Homo sapiens: one gene and its partners. The protein of the gene in region 5 interacts with the protein of the main gene of each other region in a pairwise test. Each region holds a gene or a part of one and is shown on either strand. Other genes may lie near its edges.

What was found.
Region 1: the proteins of DLC1 (region 5) and HEMGN interact in a two-hybrid assay, tested with the Homo sapiens proteins (one large-scale study listed by BioGRID and IntAct).
Region 2: the proteins of DLC1 (region 5) and HSD17B3 interact in a two-hybrid assay, tested with the Homo sapiens proteins (one large-scale study listed by BioGRID and IntAct).
Region 3: the proteins of DLC1 (region 5) and TMOD1 interact in a two-hybrid assay, tested with the Homo sapiens proteins (one large-scale study listed by BioGRID and IntAct).
Region 4: the proteins of DLC1 (region 5) and ACOT7 interact in a two-hybrid assay, tested with the Homo sapiens proteins (one large-scale study listed by BioGRID and IntAct).
Region 6: the proteins of DLC1 (region 5) and FBP2 interact in a two-hybrid assay, tested with the Homo sapiens proteins (one large-scale study listed by BioGRID and IntAct).

What each region holds. Positions count from the first base shown.
Region 1 is NC_000009.12:97,931,673-97,935,172, reverse strand, and holds part of HEMGN (hemogen), read left to right. Parts: intron 1-3,500. UniProt on the Homo sapiens protein: Regulates the proliferation and differentiation of hematopoietic cells. Overexpression block the TPA-induced megakaryocytic differentiation in the K562 cell model. May also prevent cell apoptosis through the activation of the nuclear factor-kappa B (NF-kB).
Region 2 is NC_000009.12:96,250,177-96,253,676, reverse strand, and holds part of HSD17B3 (17-beta-hydroxysteroid dehydrogenase type 3), read left to right. Parts: intron 1-766; coding exon 767-874; intron 875-2,191; coding exon 2,192-2,259; intron 2,260-3,415; exon of another isoform or gene 3,416-3,500. UniProt on the Homo sapiens protein: Catalyzes the conversion of 17-oxosteroids to 17beta-hydroxysteroids. Favors the reduction of androstenedione to testosterone. Testosterone is the key androgen driving male development and function. Uses NADPH while the two other EDH17B enzymes use NADH.
Region 3 is NC_000009.12:97,504,666-97,508,165, reverse strand, and holds part of TMOD1 (tropomodulin-1), read right to left. Parts: intron 1-3,500. UniProt on the Homo sapiens protein: Blocks the elongation and depolymerization of the actin filaments at the pointed end. The Tmod/TM complex contributes to the formation of the short actin protofilament, which in turn defines the geometry of the membrane skeleton.
Region 4 is NC_000001.11:6,338,268-6,341,767, forward strand, and holds part of ACOT7 (cytosolic acyl coenzyme A thioester hydrolase), read right to left. Parts: intron 1,323-3,500; coding exon 1,166-1,322; intron 1-1,165. UniProt on the Homo sapiens protein: Catalyzes the hydrolysis of acyl-CoAs into free fatty acids and coenzyme A (CoASH), regulating their respective intracellular levels.
Region 5 is NC_000008.11:13,497,852-13,501,351, reverse strand, and holds part of DLC1 (rho GTPase-activating protein 7), read left to right. Parts: intron 1-1,155; 5' UTR 1,156-1,280; coding exon 1,281-2,303; intron 2,304-3,500. UniProt on the Homo sapiens protein: Functions as a GTPase-activating protein for the small GTPases RHOA, RHOB, RHOC and CDC42, terminating their downstream signaling.
Region 6 is NC_000009.12:94,573,325-94,576,824, reverse strand, and holds part of FBP2 (fructose-1,6-bisphosphatase isozyme 2), read left to right. Parts: intron 1-2,170; exon of another isoform or gene 2,171-3,500.

The DNA of each region.
Region 1 (3,500 bases), on a different chromosome or scaffold from region 5:
ATGATGTCAGTATAATGTGGGGGTTGTGTTGGTTCATGATTTTTTCCTAGTCAGAAGAAAGCAGAATAGTGGGAAGAGAATTAAAGCTTTCAGCTGGAAAGAAAAAGCCTTCAGCTTGGCTGTTGTATAAGCAGGATTCTTTTCAGCCAGCATCCAGGGTTCCCTCCTCAGAGAGGCACAACACCAGCCTTGCGCAGCTCTCCATCAAGTGGCAGCTTGCACTTCCCTCCTGTGCCCAACTTAACGGCAACCCCGCTGGCTCAGAGCTCAGGTCTCAGCAGCTTCAAGCCTGCAATTACACTATATTTGCATTTACTATCCCCTGAGGCAGCCTCCAGCCACAGTAAACTGCTTGTCTAGACCATCCAAGTTCTCTCTCCTGGTACCAATTATTGTTTTAGTTAGTGTTAAAATGTTGCAAGGGTTTTGAATCATTTGTCCCAAGCCTATTTGCCCCACCTCCATAACCACTGTAACTTTATAGAGGATGATTTTGCAGAAAGTGAGGTTTTTTTAGGAACACGTGTATCATTTTACAGTAGAAATATTTGTATTAGGGTCCTGTGGCAGGTCTATTGAAGATTATCCAATTAGCTCCCAAATTCCATACCACTAAGCAATCTTCCAATCATTACTTGGCTTCCCAAGTACTTATCTACAGAGACGGTGCATTTGTTTGGGAGCCCAGAACCCAGGTATTCTCCTCCCCTCCCCTCCCCCCTCCCCTCCCCTCCCCCTCCTCTCCCCCATCCCCTCCTCTCTCCTCCCCTCTCCTCTCCTTTTCTTTTTTCTCTTTCTCTCATTCATTCATTCATTCACTCGTTTTGAGACAGAGTCTCACTCTGCTGCCCAGGCTGGAGTGCAGTGGCACAATCTCGGCTCACTGCAACCTCTGCCTCCCAGGTTCAAGTGACTCTCCTGCCTCAGCTCCCAAGTAGCTGGGAATACAGGCACTGGCCACCACGCCCAGCTAGTTTTTGTATTTTTTAGTAGAGACGGGGTTTCGCCATGATGGCCAGGCTGGTCTGGAACTCCTGGCTTCAAGTGATTCGCCCACCTTGGCCTCCCAAAGTGCTGGGATTACAGGCGTGAGCCACTGTGCCCAGCCAGTCCAGGTATTTTCTACTATGTGACTTTGTATGTCTGTTCATTTAAAAATTGGTCTTTAGGTTTATATGTCAGTCTCCTTAAATCTGCTTGATGAGCTCTGCCCCTGATAAATGGAGGTAGTCTCAGTGTGCTAACAGAATCAGGTTTCTGGGCTTGCTGGGCTGAGGGTATTCACTCAAATGGATAACACCTTAGTGAGCCTCTTGGCAGCTGGCTGGACTTGCTCTGGTGATACATCTCTATAATGCTAAGGCCTGTGCCCTCTTTTCTCACTACAACACACCATACAGTGAAACTTTATTAGTTTCAGAGAGAGGCAGCAGAGTGCATGGTTATGAGCCTGGCTGTTAAAGCCAGAATGACTAGATTCGTAGCCTGGCTCCCCTACTTGGTAGCCAGAGCCCTTGGAAATATTATGGAAAATAAATAATTCTCATTATAAACGAATAGATTGGCACTCTGGTTTATATACTAGTCTCTTTGCATTTAGTCTGTGTGTATTACTTCACTACCCCTGAGTAAACTCATACTCAGGGTTTCTAGACCTGCAATCCAGGCACGGCTCCTTATCTGTGCAGCCTGCAGGTGGATAATGTATATGGCTTGATTATCAAATACAAGTGTTGGGCAAGTTACTCAACATCTCTGTGTTTCAGTTTTGTCATTTGCAAAATGAAAATAATAACTACCTACTTCATAGACTGATGTGAAGATTATATGAGATAACAAAATAACTAAATTATTTAAACGGTGCCTGACATATACAAGCACTATAAGTGTTTCCTGTATTCATATGAGTCCTAATTTATATTTGAATAATTCATTCATGTAAGTTATTATATATAATTCTTATAACCACCACATGAAATTGGGCCGATATTATTTACCTCATTTCACTTACAAGGAAACCAAGGCATGTAGAGGTTAAGTGACTTGCCCACAACCATGAGAGAGTACAGACTAAAGTTTAGGCCACATAGGTATTTTTTGCATTTTTTGAAAAACTACCTGGGAAGACATGGACTATTACATTACTCAGATCTCCTCATACAGAGATTTAAATAACAACTTCTTTAGGATTTAATATCTAGGAAAAAATATGTGTTTCCTAAGGAACTTGGATTACTATTAATATCTTTTTCAAAAAATTTATCAGAATTTTATGATTTATCTTGTCACCTTGGTTACTTGTAGTAATAGTTCAAAATGCTGAGGTGCCATAACCATCATCTTTAGATTTCCTTTTTTTTTTTTTTTTTGAGACAGAGTCTCATTCTGTCACCCAGGCTGGAGTGCAGTGGCACAATCTCAGCTCACTGCAACCTCCATCTCCTGGGTTCAAGCGATTCTCTTGCCTCAGCCTCCCAAGTAGCTGGGATTACAGACGCGCACCACCATGCCTGGCTAATTTTTGTATTTTTAGTAGAGACGGGGTTTCACTATGTTGGCCAGGCTGGTCTTGAACTCCTGATCTCGTGATCCACCAGCCTCGGCCTCCCAGAGTGCTGGGATTACAGGCGTGAGCCAACGCACCCGGCCTAGATTTCCTTTTTTAAATATAATTTTCAATATTATTTTAGACTGCTCTGTTACATCTATACCTTTTTTTCTTTTTTTCTATAGCCTCATATTAGAAGTGAACATATATACTTTTTTGGTATTGACTTCAAACTGTGTTTGGTGAGGTAATCTTTTAAAAACACTTTTTTACAACGGAAATTTCAAACATACACAAAAAATGGAACAGGGTATACTTTTTTTAAATATGCAAGGAACGATGGGCACTATAAAGATGTAAAAAACACTGGTTTTTATCTCCAAAGACTGTCTAAAATGTTTACTAAAAGAAATACAGTTTCTTCAGAAATAACTACAGTATGAGGCAGCCTACATTCCTTGCCTTTAGCATGGTACACCCAATAAGTCCTATAGGAGTGCTAAGCTGGGAGAGCATTTTAGTCCTGTAGTCTCTTAGAGAAGGCTCCATGGAGCGGGTAGCATGAAACAGAATTTCAGTAGATTTAGAAAAATGATGAAATGCTTATTTATAGTACTTCCCCCAGCCCCCAGCCCCCAGCCCATCTGTATTAGCCATCTGTATTTGGTTGTATTTGCAGTGCCTAACAATTTGTCACTGGCTGCAATTACCATGCATATCCTTTCATCTTCTAGATCTTTAATTTATTAATTAGGAATAGGTATAATATGGCCACTCATGCCTATCTACCTGACTTCTTAACTTCAAGAAGTGCTTTTGCAGCTTTTGACCCCTTACAGTATACCTCATTTGATATATACTGTAGCAACTTAGAATTCTTTACACAAAATAATGTATTTGATAATCAAGCCATATACAGCATCCACCTGCAGGCTGCACAGACGAGGAGCTG
Region 2 (3,500 bases), on a different chromosome or scaffold from region 5:
AACTCTGTAGCTTTCACATCTGACGGAAAACTCCCGCAGAAGGCAAGTTAACACAGAGTAGTGGGGAGCGCATTGAACGTGGAGTGACCAGAGAGTGGATGGTCTTGGCTACGTCAGTTAGCTTCTCTGAGCCTTCATTTTCTCCTCTGGAAAATGAAAGTCATAATGCCTACTTTAGAAGGTTGTAGGGACAATGACCATAAGACATTGTGTATGTAAATGCTCTGTGAATGCTAAAGCATTGGACAAATACAAAGAGTTGTTGGGTCTGTGTGGAGGAGACTTGACACTTGTGAGCAGAGGCAGTGTCAGACCTTGCTTTTACAGCTGTCAGTCTGGGGTCTCGAACTTGAGCAAGCAGCAGAGTCCCTCGGAGGTGTGTTAAGCAGGTGGCTGGCTGGGCTCCACCCACAGAGTTTCTGATGCAATAGGTCTGGGGTAGAGCCCGAGAATTTGCATTTCTGGCAAGTTTCCCTGTAACCCTGATGCTGTGGTTTGTGGACTCCACTTTGAGAACCGCTGCAGTAAATCTATCTTAATGCATATACGTGTCCCTGCAGTAACTCTTAGAGACACGTAGGAACCACCATTCACCAATCTTAGCACCTCCCAACATTTACCCAGAACCATGTCCCATTTTTATTTGGGGCAATGGGCTGTCCTCTTCAATGTCTGCTCAGGTAATACAGGAGCACTGGGGGAAACTTCATGGGCGAGGGGGCATTTGGATCCCTGTTCATTAAAAAAACTGTTGTCTCTCGTGTAGAGCGGACTACAGGGAGGAGTGTGAAGATTATACAAGCAGATTTTACAAAAGATGACATCTACGAGCATATTAAAGAAAAACTTGCAGGCTTAGAAATTGGAATTTTAGGTGAGTAAATTGCAAGATGCAAAGCTTGTTGTCATACATCAGTGAAATAACCTGACACTGATGAGTGACATTTGATTATTTCATGGTGATTTATACTCAAACCATGACTGTATTTTAAGCTGTCCCATTAAGTTGAATATCAAAGCACACTTCTTCTAGAGGCATTACTGAATAAAAAAATTTATATATTGGTTTGGAATGTATCAAACATACATATTTCAACCCCCAACTATATTTTCTTTTCTTTTTTTTTTTTTTTTGAGATGCAGTCTCGCTCTGTCACCCAGGCTGGAGTGCAGTGGTGTGATCCCGGCTCACTGCAACCTCTTTCTGCCAGGTTCAAGTGATTCTCCTGCCTCAGTCTCCCAAGCAGCTGGGACTACAGGCGCCTGCTACCATGCCCAGCTAATTTTTGTATTTTTAGTAGAGATGGGGTTTCACCATATTGGCCAGGCTGGTCTCAAACTCCTGACCTCGTGATCCACCTGCCTCGGCCTCCCAAAGTGTTGGGATTACAGGTGTGAGCCACTGCACCCGGCCGGACCAACTATATTTTCTAATATTAAAATGAATTTTCTTTTATGGAACTGACGTTGACATTTGGCAGAAAAAGAATCCCAGAAACATTGGCCTAAAGGAATTAGTTTAGCAAACAAACATTGCTGTGATTGATCCATGAAATAGTATAGTTGAGAATTGACTCTCTTTCTTATTCAGAAAACAAGATAATATTTATTTCTGTAATGATTTATAGACAAGATACTTTACGGCCGCGTGCACAGTGCAGTGTTTATGGTATATATAGAAGAAAGTCAAATTGGATTTCTAAACCTTCTGCTGAATTTTAAAAATAATTACATTTTTACATATGAAAGTGTACAGCATATCATTGCAGAAAAATTGGAAAGAATAGACAGGCTAATAAAATAAATATGAATCTCTTAAAATCCCAATATTCTGAGGTAGCATTTTGGTGCACATTTTTCTAATCCTAAACACACATATTTTCAAAACTGGAATTATACGTATGTGCTGTTTTGTCATATATTTTTAAAAAACTTACATCATGCATGTTCTCCCATGTAAGCAGCCCAGCCATAGTTTTTAATGACTACACTGCATTCCAACATATGACAACCCCATGATTCATTGAAGGTGTCTCCTATTACTGGACAAAAACTTCCCCCCAGTTTCCTCACCGTTACCAAATCATGCTGCGATGAACAACCTTACATGTCAATCTTTTTGTACATGGTTCTTTGGGAAAATCTCCCACCTGATCTTCTGACACATTTTTGTTTTGCTTCTTTCTGCCAGTCAACAATGTCGGAATGCTTCCAAACCTTCTCCCAAGCCATTTCCTGAACGCACCGGATGAAATCCAGGTAGACTTGTGCTCTTCTGTGTATAGATTCCTCTTATCCAGGTTCTGGGTCCCCTGGCTGGGTAATGAGTCAGGCCTGGGAAGGCGTGATGGAAGCATGCATCTGGCCGAAATCCTGGACTGTATGTATTGAGGCCCCCTTTCCTCTTCACCTTAGCACTCGATCCACAGTCAAGAGTACCACTTTTCACGATATCTCTAGGATATGGACATCTTCCTCCTTCTCTGCACATCAAAACTTACCTGTCCATTGTCCTATGCTTCTGGGGTGCTGCACTCTACTTTATAAAGGGTAATTCTGCCTAACACATTCGCAGCTGTGAACATATATGGGAGAAGACCAGCTCTTTGGCTTTCTCTGTCTTCCCAGGTACTAAGATTTGTGTAACTTTCAGTGTGAGGGAAGTATATGACACAAACTCTATGGCTGGCAGGATTGTAAGTTCAGTAAACTTGGCTCAGACCCATGACTGCCATTGTTGGTTGGGAGTACATTTTTAATGGATTTAACAGTTCTTTTTTTTTTTTTTTGAGATGGAGTCTCCCTCTGTCGCCCAGGCTGGTGTGCGGTAACATGATCTCGGCTCACTGCAACCTCTGCCTCCCGGGTTCAAGCGATTCTCCTGCCTCAGCCTCCTGAGTAGCTGGGACTGCAGGCGCCTGCCACCACGCCCAGCTAATTTTTGTATTTTTAGTAGAGACGGGGGTTTCACTATGTTGGTCAGGCTGGTCTCGAACGCCTGACCTCAGGTAATCCACCTGGCTCGGCCTCCCAAAGTGCTGGGATGACAGGCGTGAACCACTGCGCCCGGCCGCATTTAACAGTTTTTGAAGGCACAATTTGTTGACCCTTTCTTAGGCCCTGACCTTTGGAGTCATTAGGGCTACACCAATCTGAACAGGCTCTCATGCTTCCATTCCCCACTTCTGCAGGTATCCCATCGTCCTGTGTAAGCCCCGAGTCTGCTGCACCGGGTGATAATGCCAGACTGCTTGGGCGCTGCTGCACATCCTCACCAAACTCCTGAACTCCTCTCTGGACCACACATCTCCTGTGTGGGCTCTGTCTCCCACACTCTGTTTCTGGCACAAATCTACGTCTCTTCAAGAAGCAAGTTCCAGGGTTGCTCCTCTGCCTGTGTGTGTCTGTGTTTGTGCTAGTGTCTGTGTCCGTCCTCTTGTCCTTTCTCTTTATCTTTGGTCATTCTAGTGGTTTCTTTACCTGCCCTCCATAGCCCAGAA
Region 3 (3,500 bases), on a different chromosome or scaffold from region 5:
TTACAGAGCCAGTAACTAGTAGACCTTGGATTTGAATCCAGCAAGGTGGTCTCCAGAGTCTGTGTGTGTGTGTGTGTGTGTGTGTGTGTGTGTGTGTGTGTGTGTGTGAATCAGGAAGATAGATTGTGTTTCATTATGTGTCAATTGCTATTTAAGGCCCCCCAAAGGACTAATGAAGGATTTGAGTCTGCCCTTCATTGCTCCTAGGTTCCCTGGCCTTGTGCAGACTGATCCGGAGTCCGCCTTAACTACTATGCCCTCTGTCTAGTGGCCTGTCTTGACAATATACTGAGGATTGGGGTTAAGAAAATAGTTCCCTCTCCTGAAAGACTGATTGATGTTCTTCCTTCTACTATCAGACACCAAGAGTCCTCCCATTCATCTTGTCCCCCCCTTTCCCCTTGGCTGCCATGAGTCATCTCAGAGCCAATTTGAGTGTCCAAATACAGTTGTCATCTTCAGCCAGGGCACTGGCATAATTTTCTCTCTTTATTCTCTGTATCGGGTGCTCTTAACCCGGACTTTTGAATAGGCTTCAGGGGAATCACACACCCACTGAAATGATATGCAAATTGTTGTGTATATGAATATATTCATTTTTGTGGAGCAAGAATTCATAAGCTCTAATCAGATTCTCCAGGAGTTTCGTGATCTTAATCTTCAGGGTTTCTGCCTGTCTTTCTAGAATTTCTGTTCTTACTAGTTGCATTGGTCATGTAGTTTATTTTTTAAGCCATCTCAAGCCTTTTTAATGCTGTAAGTGGAATACAATGTAAAACCATAATAAGCAAATGCGTGCAATGTTGCTATCCATTCTGAATTTTTAAATCTCTCTTGGTTTGCATGGAGGAAGTCTGTCCTCACGTCTCCCTCTCTCTTACCTTCACTTTGCACACTTCTGAGTGGTTTTGATGTCTCAGGGTCTCAGGTGTCTCAGGTTCCCATCCCAGCACTGCCCAGGCACCCATCTTGTGCTCATAGATCCAAACTTGCAAGAAGTTTGCTGACCAGAAAGAGCCCTTGATTTTGATCCAAGGCACAAATGAATTCATTTGTAGATTTAAAAATCCACTATCTTAATGCAATGGCCAGGAGGAAGCTTTGTGGTAACTAGCACTCACCTTGGTGTTCAAAATGTGGTGGTTTGTAGATACTAGTCAACACCACCTGACTAGATGTTTATTAGAGCTTATTAGGAATTATTAAGTTTATTTTCTAATCAACTTATTAGAGCTTATTAGAAGCAAGGAGCTTTTTAGAAACTCAGACTCTCAAGCCCCATCTCATACCTACTGAACCAGAATCTGCATTTCTGAAAAGATCCCAAGTAATTTCAATGCACATTAAAGTTAGAGAAGCACGGATATAAAACAAGAAGACTCATTTCTCAAGTTTGTCAAACCCTGGAGAGCACTTCAGTTTTCTGGAATTGGATGACCTGGGACAATTCCTACTAGGGTTCACTGTCCCATTACAAAAGGTAGGTAACAATACTTGCTGTTCCTCCCTCATGGGGTTACTGTGAATTTCAAATGAGCTCTTGGATTCACACTAGCTACGTATCATGATGGGGCTGATAGGAGCTGGAGAGCTGGCAGTGGGGAGCAGAATAGGTGTGGTCTCTGCCCTCATAGAGCTGATGATTTGGTCGGGTAGGAGAACATGCTGTAAATGCTGGTTGGTGTTGTGTGACTGTCCTGGTTATCACAGAGCCTTCATTCATTTATTTCATGCATTCATTCATTCATTCGGTGGTCAGCCATTTATTAAAACCTGAAGTGCCTGTACTATGTCACACATTAAGCTCTGAGCTGCACATGGGGAAGCAGAAATAAATGAGTCAGAAACCTCGTCCTCAGGGAGCTTTTAGTCTAGCCAGAGACAGAGATACATCATTGGGTGGTTCCATTTAGAACACACTCTGGCTGGTGCTCTGAGTTGGCACAGGGGGCTGTGGGGGTACAGGTAAATCAATGAAGAACTTTGCTTTTAAGGGTGATTACAAGTTCACAGACTGAGAAGAGGGAGAACAGCACTGAAGGCCGAAAGAACAGCAGGGGAAAGGCAGGGAGGCATGAAGGCACAGCATGCTTTTGCCATGGCCAGAAGGTAAAGAGAATTTGGAGGAGTGCCTAGAGATGATTTTGGAGAAGTAGCTTGAGGCCCGGTCTTAGAGGCTAATGAATCTGGTCTTTATCCCTTAGGAAATGGGGAGTCCCTGAAGGGAGACAATTGACGCAGGTGAAGATCTTTTAAGAGCAGCATGGAAGAAGGAATGACTTGAGGCAGAAATACCTTTAAGAGGCTCTGAGAGCAGCTTAGGGGAGAGAGGAAGTCCTTACTGGGGTACTGGATGTGGCGATAGAAATGGATGTAAGAGAAATTAAGGAAGGTAGCATTGACAGGACTTGGTGGGCAAATGAATGGGGTGGTGAAGAGAAAGGAATCAGGAGGCAGAGATGTCTATAGATGAGGAGCACAGTCCAGCTTGATGCAAGAATTAGGGAGTTGGGAGGTGACTGGAGTCGTGGGAGTGAATGAGACTGTGAGAGTGTGCGGTGGAAAGAGAATAGGGGTAGGAGTGGCACCAAGGCACCAACAGCAAAGCGATGGGCAGCAGCGATGAGTCTATGAAGGAGGCTGAAGGATGCCCAGAGGCAGTTCTGCTTTCCTTCATTCCTTTGGGCATGGAGAGCAACAACGCAGTGGTCACAACTCATCACCCTCCAGAATCATCGCTAGAAACGGCCCTGGGGTCACCACCCTTGAAGCCCCAGAGTGAGTGGGGCCTGAGGCTGGGGCCCCTGAGAACATGAACTGAGACAGGGATGGACATGCGTGGACGGACGCAAGCCCTTGTCTCCCTCTCCCTCCCTCTTTCCTCCTCACAGATGGTAATGTCCAACCCTTTCACAAATCATTTTTTTCTCTGAAAGAAAACCAAAAGGACATAAGAGAAGGAGAAACAAAAGGCATGCTTGAGTTTGTTTAGTTTTTCAGATCAGACAAAAACCCAGCAACACCTAACACGAAAGAAAACCTCCCAGACCGTGTCCTAAGTTGACTCCAATGAGCTCATTCTCTCATTAAGAGCAAAGAGAATTAGGTTCTATCATGATTAGCCAAAGGAAGATTTTACAAAACAAAACAAAAGAGAGGAAATGGCCCGGAATTGTGCTATCTGGTTCATGCTTTTCCATAGAAACAGGCCTGTGGTTTTAAACTGATAATGGCTCCTAGCAGCCCAATAATTGATTTATCTGGTGTTCTGGCTTTAAGGGAAAAGTAAACTGGCCTCTTTAGAAATGTTGGCAGCCTGGCTGGTCCATTAGTAAGACTGAAAAGTCAAAACATTGACTGGAAAAGGCCATTACGACCGGGCTCAGCAGGAGTCATCGATAGATGATGTCATTTCAGAAATAAATAAGCCAAGGTTATGAGGCCCCAGAGCAGGGTCAAAACACTCTTCACAGCCCATCACCATCCTCCATCGCAGATAC
Region 4 (3,500 bases), on a different chromosome or scaffold from region 5:
GGAGAAGAGCTGCGATCTCACAGGAGATGGCAGGGAACCCCCAAGGCCCCTAAAGTGGGGAACCCACCCAGCCCTGAGCCTCTCCCGAGTCGTGGGCGCTGCTCCTGTTGTGGGAGGTGCCCATACACCCCTTCCTGGGCCACATCCTGAGACCAGCATCCAGGGTCCCTCTGATGTCAGAGGTGCCTGCTGAGGGAGCAGCAGGCAATGGGAACGCAGACCACCTTCCACCCCAGGCCCTTGCTCAGCTCCATCTGCCCACCTGCCGGAGCTGGGCTGACACAGCCATTCTAATCAACCCTGCTGAGGTCCTCAGAATGTTCTAGATGCATAATCGTGCTTGCTACCGGCCCGTCATGAGGAAGAGGACTCAAGCCCCTCAAATGGCTGTGAGCTGGCACTCCACGGGGCAGCCACTGCTGAGGAACAGGCATGGGGAAGAGGAGGAAACCGGCCCAGCCTCTCTGCATGGGAGGACTGGTGACCTGGGAGGTGGCAGGGAGAGGACCAGGGGCAGGGGAAGAGGCCCGCCTTCCCCCTCACCTCCCGTCCCCAGCCTGGGTATAAAAAGAAGCGTGAGCTGGTGAACACTGGAGCCGCCCCCTCCTGCAGCGCCCAGTGGGAAGGGGAAGGGGGTTTCCATGGTTACCATGGCCAAGGAGGAGAATATTCAGATGAAAGCAGAGGCAAAGGTTCACCCAGTGAGCTTCCATCTGAGCCTGGTTTCTGGGGCTCCCAGGAGCAAGCACTGTCCTCTCTGGAGCCAACACCTCCCTACGCTTGAGGAGGGCAAGCAGGGCAGGGAGACCTGCAGAGGGGTGGATGGTGCGTACCGGCCTCACAGCCCGCGCCCAGCCCCTGCCATGGATGAGCTGGCCACGGGCAGCAGGACAGGCAGCATGATGTGCTCAGGCCGGACCCAGACAGCAGGGTTGAGTCCTGCTCTGGGTAACTGAACTCGTTTCCTAACCCCTCTGTGCCCCTTTCCTGTCTGCAAAATCAGGGCAATGGACATAGCTGCTCCCAGGGCCATGGTGGGAGGTGAGAGAGGTCTCATTGGTGGAAAAGGGGCCAGGCCCTGGAGCGTCCTCTGCCCTCAGGAGGGAAGCAGCTGTGTAGCCACGGCCCTTACTGCTCCAGTCAACACTGTCGCTCCCAGAAGTACCTGTGAGGATGTTTTCGGACATCACGTTGACCTGCACCTCCACAGAGTGCTTGGAGGTGTAGGTGATCTCCGCGCTGACATGCGCCACCTCACCGATGCACATGGGAGACAGGAAGTCGGTGCGCTCGACACGAGCCAGGGCGGCCACACAGCGCTCCTGTGGAGACAGAGGCAGTTGTCAGCCCAGGTCAGCCAGCCCAGCCCCGAGAGCCCCACCCAGGACATGCCCCCTGGAAACGGTCTTTGCCTTTGCTTTCATTCCCCACTGTGAAAGCAACCAATGTATCACCATTTATTGGCACCGCGGTTTTTTTTTTTTTTTTTTGAGATGGAGTCTCGCTCTGTCACCCAGGCTGGAGTGCAGTGGCAAGATCTCAGCTCACTGCAAGCTCAGCCTCCCGGGTTCACGACATTCTCCTGCCTCAGCCTCCCGAGTAGCTAGGACTACAGGCGCCCGCTGGGACTACAGCGGGCCTTCCGAGTAGCTGGGACTACAGCCACCACGCCCAGCTAATTTTTTGTTTTTTTGTTTTGTTTTGTTTTTTGTTTTTGAGATGGAGTCTCGCTCTGTCACCCAGGCTGGAGTGCAGTGGTGCGATCTCCCCTCACTGCAAGCGCCGCCTCCCAGATTCACGCCATTCTCCTGCCTCAGCCTCCCGAGTAGCTGGGACTACAGGCGCCCGCCACCATGCCCGGCTAATTTTTTTGTATTTTTAGTAGAGACGGGGTTTCTCCATGTTAGCCAGAATGGTCTCAATCTCCTGACCTCGTGATCCGCCCGCCTCGGCCTCCCAAAGTGCTGGGATTACAGGCATGAGCCACCGCGCCCGGCCTAGCACCGCGCATTCCTAAACACAAAAGCACAGGGATGTAGAGGAGCCCTGCAGAGTCCAGCCCAAAGCAACTGCTGCAGGCGATTCCCCAAGTGATGGGATCACCAGCTGCTTCTTCCTTTCTTCTGATTTTCTCACAATAGGCATGCATTATTTGCTTAATATAAAGTGAACAAATGCATACATACCCATTATGGAAAATTTGGGAAATACAGAAAAGTAGAAAGAAGGGGAACGTCACTCCTCCCATTCAAAGATAACCATGGTTACTATTTTGGGATCTGTCTTTCCAGGCTTTTTTCCCAAGAATCGGGGTGGGTTTTGTTGTCTCACTTGTTCGTCTGCCTGGCTCGTTTCACAGTTTTAGTCTAATATAGCTGTGCAAAAACTAAGTATACACCCTCACCTTCTGATTCTTTTTCATTCAACGTAGGAAAAATAATCTGCCTGTGTTGTGACACATTCTTTGCAATCACTATTCTTCTTTAGGCCGGGCGCGGTGGCTCATGACTATAATTCCAGAACTTTGGGAGGCCGAGGTGGGCGGATCACATGAGGCCAGGAGTTCGAGACCAGCCTGGCCAACATGGTGAAACTCCATCTCTACTAAAAATACAAAAGTTACCCGGGCGTGGCGGTGCACATCTGTAATCCCAGCTACTCAGGAGACTGAGGTATGAGAATCAGGTGAACTCGGGACGGGGAGGTTGCAGTGAGCTGAGATTGCGCCACTGCACTCCAGCCTGGGTGACAGAGCAAGACTCCATCTCAAAAACAACAACAACAACAAAACACTAAATACACTCTCACCTTGATTCTTTTTCATTCAGTATGGGAAAAATAATCTGCCCGTGTTGTGACATGGCTCTTTGCAATCACTATTCTTTTTTTTTTGAGATGGAGTCTCACTCTGTTGCCCAGACTGGAATGCAGTGGTGCAATCTCGGTTCACTGCAACCTCCGCCTCCAGGATTCAGGCAATTCTCCTGCCTCAGCCTCCTGAGTAGCTGGGATTACAGATGTGCACCACCACGCCTGGCTAATTTCTGTATTTTTAGTAAAGACGGGGTTTTACCATGTTGGCCTCAAACTCTTGACTTCAGATGATCCGCCTGCCTCATCCTCCCAAAGTGCTGGGATTACAGGCGTGAGCCACCGTGCCCGGCCCAACTATTCTTTTTAAAAATTTAAAAGTGGCCAGGTGTGGTGGCTCACGCCTGTAATCCCAGCACTTCGGGAGGCCAAGGCGGGTGGATCACACGGTCAGGAGATCGAGACCATCCTGGCTAACATGGTGAAACCCCGTCTCTACTAAAAATACAAAAAATTAGCCGGGTGTGGTGGTGGGTGCCTGTAGTCCCAGTTACTCGGGAGGCTGAGGCAGGAGAATGGCGTGAACCCGGGAGGCGGAGCTTGCAGTGAGCCAAGATCGCACCACTGCGCTCCAGCCTGGGCGACAGAGCGAGACTCCGTCTCAAAAAAAAAAATTTTTTTCAATGTTA
Region 5 (3,500 bases):
TGAGTTGACACTGGTATTATTTCTTTCCTTTAACTAAGGGTTTGAAGAATTCAAGGCAAAAATTTGGGTACCTGGTATGTGTTTGTATTCTAAGCTTGTCTTATGCATGATTTTCTTGTTTACTTAAATTTTATGGCCATATTCTAACAGAAATATGCAAACTAAACTTCTTATAAGCCAAACAGAATGAGACTGAAGTTTCTGAAGAATAGTCCCAATTGTCTTATAGTCATATCTTCCTTTATGTTCACTTGAATTCTTGCATAAAATATTTAGAGTTTACACATACTAAAGTTATGTGGGAAGAAGGGATGAAGGTAGAATCTCATAATTCCATGGAGACAATGAAGTTTGTTGACTATCTCAGTCTGGGCCTTAGAAGCAGGACCAAGTTTGAATCTCGGCTCACTTGCTACATGTATAACTTTAGTAAATTATTTAATTTCCCTTAAGCTTCAAAAATACCAGCTTGCAAGCTAGTAGTAGCAGTAGTAGGATGCATGTACAGATGTATCTGTCCTAATTGTAAATGGTATGTGTTATGCTTTCTAATCCATGCATTCTGTGTTAATATGTGCTAAACTGGATTATTCCATGTTTCTTAGTCATTCCCTGGAGTAACTACATACTGGTCGTTTGGGTTCGGTGTTAGCTCCTTCACACACTAATACATTACACATGCTGTCTCTATAGCTCAAGTTTTGCATGAACAGTTCCCTGGTGGCTTTCGCTGTGATTCAAACCAAACAGTGAATAGATTTATTTAACAACTTGTGTTCACAAAAGTAAATCAGGAAAACATGCAAGCCAGAACAATGTTTCTTCCAGTGATTTTTATTAAGTATTGCATTTCACATATTTTCTTAATGGAGTTTTAAATGTTCAGTATTTGTATCTTTATTCATTAATGGACCAATCCAACTGCCTTTAAATGCCTTTAAAAGTATTGCTGATGATTTTTATCAGAAATATTCAATGTTAAATTTCCTTCTAGTATTAGGCTTCTTAAAGAAATGACATTATTAAAGCTACTAAACAGAAGCTTTATAAAATCTCTTAACTTTGATAGCATAGATTAAGTTTTCTCTTTTCTAAGATATATTTTGACTTTAGAAACGTATCTGCGACTACATATTTTTTTGAATTTTTTAATAGGTGGTGAAATGACAGAACTCATTCGCTTCTTTGATTGGTGATTTTGAAATAATCTTTCATCAAGTTCCATCTCCTTTACCCTCATATGGAATATATCTCTCTGTCTGTTGTTAAACTACGATGACATGTCTGTAGCTATCAGAAAGAGAAGCTGGGAAGAACATGTGACCCACTGGATGGGACAGCCTTTTAATTCTGATGATCGTAACACAGCATGTCATCATGGACTAGTAGCTGACAGCTTGCAGGCAAGTATGGAAAAAGATGCAACTCTAAATGTGGACCGCAAAGAGAAGTGTGTTTCACTACCTGACTGCTGTCATGGATCAGAGCTGAGAGATTTTCCTGGGAGGCCAATGGGTCATCTTTCAAAGGATGTGGACGAAAATGACAGCCATGAAGGTGAAGATCAGTTTCTTTCTCTGGAAGCCAGCACAGAAACACTAGTGCATGTTTCTGATGAGGATAACAATGCTGATTTATGCCTTACAGATGATAAACAGGTTTTAAATACCCAAGGGCAGAAAACATCAGGCCAACATATGATCCAAGGAGCAGGCTCCTTAGAAAAGGCACTGCCCATCATACAAAGTAACCAAGTTTCTTCTAACTCCTGGGGAATAGCTGGTGAAACTGAATTAGCACTGGTAAAAGAAAGTGGGGAGAGAAAAGTTACTGACTCTATAAGTAAAAGCCTGGAGCTTTGCAATGAAATAAGCTTAAGTGAAATAAAAGATGCACCCAAAGTAAATGCAGTGGATACTTTGAACGTGAAAGATATTGCACCTGAGAAACAATTGCTTAACTCTGCTGTAATTGCTCAGCAACGAAGGAAACCTGACCCCCCTAAAGATGAAAATGAAAGAAGCACCTGCAATGTAGTACAAAATGAGTTCTTGGATACTCCTTGCACAAACAGAGGACTGCCATTATTAAAAACAGATTTTGGAAGCTGCCTTCTGCAGCCTCCTTCCTGCCCCAATGGAATGTCAGCTGAAAATGGCCTGGAGAAGAGTGGTTTTTCACAACATCAAAACAAAAGTCCACCAAAGGTCAAGGCAGAAGATGGCATGCAGTGTTTACAATTAAAGGAGACCCTGGCCACCCAGGAACCCACAGATAACCAAGTCAGACTTCGTAAGAGAAAGGTAAGACATATGCACAGATTCTCTGGCTTTTGAAATTTTGTAAATATCCTTGGATTTATCAGTTATCATTTTGCTTGGATTAAAAAGATATGAAGATGGTTCTTTTGCCCTGTTATGCAGATGTGTAATTCAACGACTACCCACTTGGTCAAACCATCAAAATATGTAAAAATTAAAGAATAATAATCTATCCGTTTCACTAATAATGTGTATAATGGTTTATGAATATTCTATTTCAGAATTGTGTTGAAAACAGGATTGGTATCCCTTTCTTTAGTTGGAATTAAATAGCCACTAGATAGCTCATAGACATGCAATTCAAGGCATTCTGTAGAGTGATTTCTAATTCTTATAAAGAAAGTCATGGTACTGTTATAGCATTTATTTGGGCATATTTCTTTTTCTCTTCAAAAAGACTATGTTTTCATAAGAAAAAAAGGTGGTATAAATCACATATTTAAAATAATCCCCTCACATATACAAAGGCTAAACTACTCCCACCCCCAAAATGTGCTGGTGCCATTTTAAGTGATACCCTGGCACACTCACCATCAATATATATATCATAGTCTCTGTTTCTTGCCACAACTGTTACTTAACTGTCAACCAGAAAAGGCTAATAACCACAATTATGTTTTATGCTACAGCCCCTTTGACTAATTCTAAAGATGCCATCCTCCCCTGCGAAGCTTTCAAGTGAGAGAAGCAAGGGCTAAGATGGTGCTACCTGAATTATGGTTTAGCAAGTGAACCCTTGACCAAAACCTGTCTTTTCTATAGAATTTCCCCACATTTTTCCAAAAACTGTAGTGAGTTATAGTCCTGATATAAGTCCAAGCACAGTTTCTTCTTCTATAAACCCCACATGGCCAATGGCATGGAAGAAACCCTGCATTTTTGACACTGGTATGCACTGATTAAAACATATATCCTTGCCCCTCTCTTGATACATTCATCCATAACTGCAATTCTCCTAAACACAAAAGTAATGTTCTTTGTTCTGTTCAACTGGGGCTATCTACCATGAGAGAGAAAAAAAAATCTACTACTTTCTTTGTAGTGAAGAAATCTGGTTTTCATAGACTGTGGTTTTGCTTACAAACTAGATCAGTAATGTGTCGTGAGTTAGTTTAAATGAAGTCAAAGACTTTACAGCAAAAATCAGTGTCCACAAGCTATATGCTAACAGAGCATTTT
Region 6 (3,500 bases), on a different chromosome or scaffold from region 5:
ATGCTCAAATGGTGTCACTAGTGGCCAAGTCTAAATAGAGCAGAGTCCCAGTGACATCCCAAAAGAGGCAGATGGTGGTCAAATGCACTCCGACTAACTCACCAAGTTCCGAAGTTTCAAAGTTCCAAAATTCCAAAGTTTGTCACTTCTCTAAAAGTCACTTTCAGTGCACCAGTGAAATATTGGAGGTAGCAGGCACTGCAGCAGGAAGAGAAAGAGAGGATCCCCAAGACAAAAGCATCTAGGCAGCTGCAGGAGACTCCCTAGCATTCCAGCCAAGGGGTCAGGTAGCCACAAGCAACTGGAGCCTACAGGCAGCCCCACAGGCCCTGTCCAATAGAAACCAGACCATGGGCTTGGGCCCCCAGAGCACACTGTATGGGCCACTAAAATTGTAACTGAATGCAGGTCCACATGCTCACTGCCTGCAGAGTCCAGTTAACAAGAGTGAGGCCTGGTAGATAGAAAGTGACTTTATTAACCACAACTAGTAAAGGGGAAGTGGCCAGATTCCCATCAAAGCAACCACTTTGACTATTTCGGGGGAAGGGAGGGGTTTAAAAGAGGAAAACTTGATTAAGGAGGGCATGCAAGAGAATTGTGCTGAGTACAGTATCTCTGGGTCTTGTTTTTATGATTATCTTTGGTGCCAGTCCACCTGGACCTCAGGCTGACATCATCTCAACAGTGGCCGAGTTGTTAATTAGCTGCATGGAAGTAATCTCTGGAATTTTGCAGCTAGGTCTCCATGCTTGGTCTGTCCGTCTCAAGATTACCTCCTGGAACTTCTAAGAAGGCACATAATAGATACTAGCATGCAGTTAGCTAAATGTGCAGGGAGTATATATGGTGAGAAAGGGAGCTATTTTATAGCTAAGAGAAAAGACTTCTGCAGTTTGCTTCAAGGTTATATCTTGAAACCCAAGAGAAGGGAAAAATGTTTTAAAATATATTATGAAGTTAAGCTGCCCAGTTACGTTAGGAAGATGGAAATTAAAACCACAGTGAGACACCATTCTCCTCTTCCAGAGTGGCTAAATCTAAAAAGACTAAGCATACCAAGTGTTGGCAAAGAAACTGGAATTCTTATACCTCATTGGTGGGACTATCAAATAGTATAACTACTTTGGAAAACATTTGATAGGACCTACTAATGCTAAACAGATATTTACACACTATGGCCAAGCAATTTCACTCCTGGGACCCACACAGAAGAAAGGAATTCTGTGTCTGCCCAAAGATGGAGAAATTAGTCATAGTAGCCCCAAACCAGAAAAATCCAAATGCATATCAACATGAGAATGGAGAAATAAATTGTGATATAGTCATACAACAGAAAACTACATAGCAATGAAAAAGAACAAACTGCTATGTATAACAACATAGGTAAAATTGCAAAGAAATAAACTTGAAAATCATAAGCCATACAAAAGAACATATGCAGTGTCATTTCATTTAGATGATGTTCCAAACCAGATAAAGTTAGATTTGGTGATAAAGGTGAGAATAGAGGTTACCTTTGGCAGGAGGTGATAGTGACTGGAAGAGACTACTAGGCCTGGCTTCACTAGGCTTAAAGTCCACTAGGTTGCTGGAAATGTTATATAAATGGATCTGGATGTTATGTAAAATATTCTATAAATACACATAAGTGTATATTATATATTTGTAAAAATTTATCAAGATGTACCATTAAGATTTGTATGCTCTGCTATATGCTTTATACCTCAACAAAAAGGAAAAAAGTCCACATTTCATAATTTCTACCACCAAATACATGGAGCTCTTGCAATTTTCATTAATTTTACCAAAAAGTAGTGGTAGGAAGCACCACTTATCTGATGGGCTCAGATATTTATTGGTGTAGAAAAAAATAAAAAGACGCACTAAATCATTTGCAAACTACTATAAAATTTACTGAGAAAGGTGTCATGGCAATGAAGATTGCTGATATAAACTGGGTTTTTGAAATCTCAGGACCGTGTTAGACAAATACAAAAACTGAACCATTCTTTTTTTTCCATGCATAGAAATAAATTACAGATGAGTTGATGAGTTTGGTAGAGAGGTGGGGAATAAAACCAGAAAGAAAAGACAAGAATATTTGTGTCACCCTGTCTTGATGTAGGAGAAATTCAGTCTAAACATAAAGACAAGAGAAGAAAACATATGGAATGTCATGAATAATTTTAATTTTAAAACTGCACTGCAAAAACAGGCACCATAAATAAGAAGGCAATGACAATCGAGGAAAATATTTGTGACATATACAAGACATTAATATCCTTTATATATAAAGAGCTATTAAAATAAACAAGAAGTTGAATATCCTGATAGAAAAATAAGCAAGACATGAAAGAGACAACTTACAAAATAAAAATGGTCAAAATAAACATATAAAAGGTTTTACCTGACTCATAAAAAATAGAAGTTAAAACAAAAGAGATGTCATTTTGTCCACCTGTCAAATTGACAAAGTTGAAAAGACAATGCTATCTTGTGTTTACCAGGCTGAATTAAAATGAACTCTCTTATTATTAGTGGTAAAAGTATAAATTGATGCACTCTTTCTGGAGGACAATTTTTCAATATGTATCAAAAGATTTTTACCCAATTATTTAATTATTGGGAATTTATCTTGGGAAAATGATCAGAGAATTGTGTATTTATGCAGTAGATTGTTAATCTCAGGTTGCCTTGTTTTTCAAAAGGATAAAAAGAGAATATTAGAAACAACTCCACATGCATACATTTGACAACTTAGATGAAACGAACCAATGTCTCAAAAACTACAATACTCTAACTCACCCAATATAAAATAGATACTTTGAATGGCTATCTACAGGGCTCAATACTATTAAGAAACTCATGCCCAAGAAAAGAAATCTCCAGGCTCAGATGGTTTACTGGAAAAACATAACAAATATTCACAGATTATTCAGTCTCTTCCAGAAAAGATAATAGGAAGGAACACTTCCCAATTCATTTTATGAAACCAGTGTTATCCTGATACAAAAACCAGACAAAGATTGTTCAAAAAAATACCACAGACCAATATTCCTTATCAATAAATGCAAAAACTCTTAACAAAATATTGGCAAATAGAATTCAACAATACATAAAATAAATTATACACCATGGCTGAGTGGGGTTTATTCTGGTGATGGAAGACTGATCCAGTATTCATAATCAGTCAGTGTAATCCACCATATCAACAGGCTAAAGAAGAAAAATCACATAATCGTATCTATTGATGGAGAAAAAACATTTGAACAAATTCAACACTCATTCATTATTTAAAAAAGAAACTTGCTGAGGTAGGAGGATTGCTTGAGGCCAGGAGTTTGAGACCAGCCTGGGCAACATAGCAAGACCCCCATCTCAAAAAAGACATTAGCTGGAGAGGGGGGTGGTAGTGCATACCCGTAGTCCCAGCTACTCAAGAAGTTGAGATGGGAGGATGACTTAAGCCCAGGAGTTGGAGGCTGCAGTGAGCCATG